Linked DNA regions of Homo sapiens: region 2 is linked to region 1. Evidence: fine-mapped expression QTL. Tissue or cell type: whole blood. Region 1 holds a variant in brackets; the other region holds the start of a gene. All regions are shown on one strand. Distances are between the middles of the regions.

What was found. PIP is the estimated chance that this variant, and not a neighbour inherited with it, causes the effect.
Region 2: ALAS2 starts here. The variant in region 1 is the best candidate, but not a certain one, in a credible set for the expression of ALAS2 in whole blood (TOPMed, PIP 0.90).

The regions. Positions count from the first base shown.
Region 1 is chrX:55,008,029-55,010,686 of GRCh38, reverse strand. APEX2 (apurinic/apyrimidinic endodeoxyribonuclease 2) reads right to left here. Exons shown (of 6, transcript NM_014481.4): 6 at 1,630-2,658. It overlaps ALAS2 (5'-aminolevulinate synthase 2), which reads left to right. Exons shown (of 11, transcript NM_000032.5): 11 at 1,344-1,632. The coding sequence ends at 1,507. Among named protein-coding and RNA genes, the nearest start is that of APEX2, 9.0 kb to the right of the region's middle. RefSeq lists an enhancer at 2,617-2,658. The variant C/T (reference allele first, on the strand shown) is at 1,631.
Region 2 is chrX:55,029,473-55,032,159 of GRCh38, reverse strand. ALAS2 (5'-aminolevulinate synthase 2) reads left to right here and starts at 1,183. Exons shown (of 11, transcript NM_000032.5): 1 at 1,183-1,218. It also overlaps a transcript of PAGE2B not described here. RefSeq lists an enhancer at 1,178-2,687.

The DNA of each region.
Region 1 (2,658 bases):
GTATTAGAGTGGCAAGGGTAGAAGACGCTGAGGTGAAACTTGAGCAAAAATTTGAAGGAGGTGAAGTTAGTGAGGCAGATATCTAAGGGAATGGCATCGCAGGCAGAGGGAACATCCTAAGGCAGGGAAGACACAGGAGTATTCCTTTTATATTTGAGGAACAGTAAGAAGATGGGTGTGGGTGGAATGGTATAAGCAAGTGGGAGACAGAAAAATTGAGTACATAGAGGCAATGTGGGACCAGATTGTATAGGGTATGGTAGGCCATTAGAAGGAGTTTGGCTTTTACTCTGAGAGCCCTTGAAAGGATTTGAACACAGGACTGATATTTCTGACTCGGGTTTTAACAAAATTGCTCCAACTTCTATGTAGAGAATACACTAAAAGGGAGCAAGGGTGGAAGCAGGGAGACCCAAGAGTGGGCTACAGTAATATCCCAGGTGAGAGATGATGGTGGCTCAGACTTGATCATAATGAAGGCAATAAGAAGTGGTCAGATTTTGAAGGTAGAGCCAAGGGTCTTTGCTGATAGATGGGATATAGGGTAAGAGAGAAAGAGAAAAATAAAGGATAGCTCTGAAATTTTTGGACTGAGCAACTGGAATTGCCATCCACTGAGATGGGAAAAGCTAAAAGTAGAATAGCTTGGTGGAGGGTAGGGACATGAGTAGCTCAGTTGTACTCCTAAGTTAGAAATGCATATTAGACATCTAGGTGGAGATGGAGAAAAGCCATTGGATATACAAGATTGGAAACCAGTAGAGTGGCGTGAGCTGGAGATTAAAATTTCTGAACCATCAGCATATAGATGGTCTTTAAAGTCATGTGACTAGACAAGATCAACAAGGGCATGAACACAGAAAAGGCCAAGAACAGAGCCCTGGAACGTACCTGGGGTACTTCCTCCAGCTAGGTCAGGTTCCCTTCTCTGGGTTTTCACACCCCCAGGTGGACCCCCTACCCCAGGTTTCCTGGTCATAGCACCAATGACACAGTATAGTTACTGTCATTATCATTGTCCTCATAGGGCTTAGAGTTCCCAAGCAGACAGTCATTCTTGGGCCACAGCACATCCTATACTTAGGGAGTGGTCCAGGCCAGGACAGTATGGCTTCAAATTGTGTCAAAGGAGAGCTTCCAAATCTTTTATAATATATATCCCAGCATCCAGATACAAATGGTAATATTCACGGCACACACAGAAGCAAACAGTAGGCTACTTCTGGCCCTGAGGTATCTTGAAGGGTTGAGGGGGATCAATATCTTGGCTCATCTGTACTGTGACAGATTTGGAAGATCTAGTCTAACCCATTTTTTCCCTCCCCTCCCCCTACCACCTTCAGAGAAGCTGCTGCTGGCTTGGACTGCGGTGGGGCTGCCCCTCCAGGATGTGTCTGTGGCTGCCTGCAATTTCTGTCGCCGTCCTGTACACTTTGAGCTCATGAGTGAGTGGGAACGTTCCTACTTCGGGAACATGGGGCCCCAGTATGTCACCACCTATGCCTGAGAAGCCAGCTGCCTAGGATTCACACCCCACCTGCGCTTCACTTGGGTCCAGGCCTACTCCTGTCTTCTGCTTTGTTGTGTGCCTCTAGCTGAATTGAGCCTAAAAATAAAGCACAAACCACAG[C/T]ATGTGAAGCCTTTTATTGGACAGGGAACAGACAAGTGCATTCTGACTCCCTCAGACAAGTGGCAGATCTATGAGGTAACCATAGGTCACTTGTTGGTCACCATTCCATTTTACCAACAGGGAAACAGAATGAGAAAGAGGAAGGAAATGCCCAAAAACTACACAGTGAGTTGCAAAGAGCTAGGATACTTGGCAGATTTATTTGAGATGGCTCTTCTCCAATGGTTTCAATAAAAATCCAGGGATTGACGCTTCACTGGTAATCCGGGCCCTGGAAATCTGGGCCCAGGGTAGCCCCTGAAGCCAGGAAATGAGTCAGCCCTAACCAAATTCCCTAGAAAGGAGTGGTTCCCCAAAACCAAAGAGGTATTTTCCATAAGGGGATATGGATGTCTTCCTCAATCCATTATCCTCTCTCCCTCCCACGGCATCCCACAGAACAGGATTTACCAGTCCCATTCTTTTTCTTTTCTTTTTTTTTTTTTGGAGACTGAATTTCACTCTTGTTGCCCAGGCTGGAGTGCAATGCATGATCTCAGCCCACTGCAACCTCCGCCTCCCAGGTACAAGCTATTCTCCTGTCTCAGCCTCCTAAGTAGCTTGGATTACAGGCACGCGCCACCACGCCCAGTTAATTTTTTTGTATTTAGTAGAGACGGGGTCTCACCATGTTAGGCTGGTTGCGAACTCCTGACCTCAGGTGATCCACCCATCTCAGCCTCCCAAAGTGCTGGGATTACAGGCGTGCACCACTGTGCCTGGTCTACCAGTCCCATTTTCAAAGGTGAGAAGAGGCTTGGCTAGAGCAAGCACTGTGTTCAAAGCAATGCTCCCACTTTCCAGGTCACAGTATACAGGAAACATTTCCATGGCACACTTAGGGGTACTAATGATACTACTTGCTAAGGAGGCAATCGTCCCTGAAACTTGTGTGGTCCCAGGCCCTGCCTGGCAACTCTGAGGGCTGAGGACCGTTTCTTTCAACCCTGTAACCCACTGTGGCAGCTGTGGGACGCACTAGCTGGAAA
Region 2 (2,687 bases), 21 kb before region 1:
CTTATATTTTAGGATGCCACCCTCTAAAAAAATGCTCTCACAAATGCCAAAAGATGTTCATTGCAACATTAATCATAATGGAGGGGGGAAAATCCTTGGGAATAACCTAAATTTATATCAATAAGGGAGTGTTTAAATAAATTACAGTGCATTCAGATTTTGTAACCTCCATGGTATATTGGCATATGGTTGAATGAAAAACAAACAAAAAAAAGAAATTGCAAATCAATATGTAGACTATGGTCTTATTTATGTAAATATAATATTAATGATGACAATCTGCTCTAAAGATGAAATTGTCTGGTTATAACATGGTCCTGCTGCCTTAGGATTGATAAGGGAAGGGGAAAAAGAGAGTGACAAAAGGGGAAGAAAATGAAAAAGGGAGGAGAAGGTAATAGAAAAGATAAGACAGAGAACTTCACATTTTTAATTGTATATTATGAGAGGAAGAGAAGAGTGTGGGTTCTGTAACTACATTGCCTAGGTTCATAGGCGGGCTCTGTACTTTCTAGTTGGGTAATTATCAACAAGTTACCTCACCTCTCTGAGCCTCAGTTTCTTCATCTGTAACATAGGGATAATAGTACCTATCTTTTAAGGTCCTTATGTGGCTAAATTAATTCATGTAAAGCACTTAGTGAAGGGTCTGGTGCATTGTAAGCACTCAGTCAACAGTAGGTGTTATTTATTTGGGCCAGGCACTGTGGTATGCGTTTTCCATACATGATATTACCAAATTGTTACAACAACCGGGGATCTAGTCTGTGGAAGCTGACTGTTTGAGCTCATAAGCACAACACTGTATTCTAGGTCTGACTCCAGAGCCCTCCCAACTTGTGCCACAGTCACTTCTGGGTTTTATTGCCCTCCTTTTATAGTTGAGGAGATCTATAGTCAGAGAGGTGGTTTTGCTCAAGGTATCCCAGCTCTATGTGGATGGTCTGATTCCAAAGCCCAAATGAGCTAATTTTACTGTCCTATAGAGAGAAGAAAATAGGGAAGAGCCAGAGCTGGGGGAGGGGGTACACTAGAGGGAGGGGCTACTTTGGGTTTTATCTCTAGCAAGGAAGGGACTGAGATACCTTTGGGGCCAATGCAGGGCCAGGCCGGCAGAAGGCAGGGTGGGTGGGGCTGAGTCAGAGGAGAAGGGATAAATGCCAGGTCCTAACCCAAGTACCCACCTGTCATTCGTTCGTCCTCAGTGCAGGGCAACAGGTAAGAGCTGCTTTCAGCCTGGCACCCTATCTCTGGTCTGCCAGCTGGTCTCTCAGGGCTGTACACACTGACTCTCTGGTCTGAGTAGATCTGACTTTTTCCTTTGTTTGTTTCTTAGAATCTGTCTCTTTTTCATTTTCTTTTTATCTCCCATGTCTCTTTCTGTCTTTCCTCATTTTCAGCTTTTTTCTCTCTTTTTCCCTTCGTTACTTTCTTTTGTTAGTTTTCAAGATCATTCATTTCATTTCATCATTCTCTGACACTCTTGCTTTCTCTTATTTTTCCCTCTGAATTCTAACTATCTTTTTCTCTAAATTTCTTTCTCTCCCCCTTTTTGTCTCTTTCCTCGGCTTTGTATCTCTCCGTCTCTGTGTTTCTGTCTCTCTCTTCCTCTCTATCAAGAACGATGGCTTAATATTTCTTCCTGCAATTCCCCATTCCTCTCTCCCTTTGACTCCCTCTACCTGCTGGGCTGACAGCAGAGCTCAGTGGGTCAGAGCCCATGGGGAGCCTAGGGGTGGGGGAAGAGCTAGGGAGGGAAACTAAGAGGATGTGGGGGTGATGGGAATGATGAATTGGGTAAGGAGAGATTTGGGGAATTGAGAGATGAATAATTAGCAGAAATAAGTGAAGAAAGTGGAAGAGGAATGTAGTGTCACTATACAGAAAGTAAACAGATTTCTATTCTCATCCTAATTCACTGTGAGACCCTAGGCAAGTCATTCACTCTCTGAAAAAAAGGCTTGGCCTGTAATTTCCACCACCCTTTCTAGTTTTGATTTTGTGATCTTCTAAATTTTCCTGTTTCTAAGAATTTCTGATTCTCTGATTACAGTTATCTAAAGTTCTGTATGATTCTTTCATGGTGGGAAAGGGGTACTAGGAAGAGAAGTAAGGCCTGATGTTTCCAACTCCTGAAGAGAAATTACCACTTCCCTTCCAGACCTAATTGACTTTTGCAAAGCAGGCCACAAAAGGGGTGGGGGGGTGGGGGACAAGGAATGCTGCAATGAGTGTTTTCTGGCTGTCTGCTGGGGTAGAGTTGCAGTTGGCCCTTTTCACCTCTGGGAGTACAGATTGGGTGCTGACACAAGAGAGGATTTTAAAGTCGTAGGGAAAAACTTTCAGTAATGATCTGTTACTTGGTCTCAAATTTCACCATCATCTCTTTGGTTAAAAGTATTGTTTTAAGAAGATGCCTGGCAAGCATTATCACACATTAGGTACATAAGTTATTGAATGGTAGAGTAAATGAATATTCAACAGTACCTGAAATTCCACTGTAGTTACAGATCTGTTCCTTTGGTAAGGCATTGGTGACAAATGGCATATGACCTGGAAAGAGGCCTATGTTAGTGCAGCAGAGGAGATAAATGTCTAGAGTCAGGCCCTCAGTCAAGAAAAAAAGGTAGTAATATTTGAATCACAGATCCATAATGGTTAAGTTAGGAATCTCTGGAAACAGATTG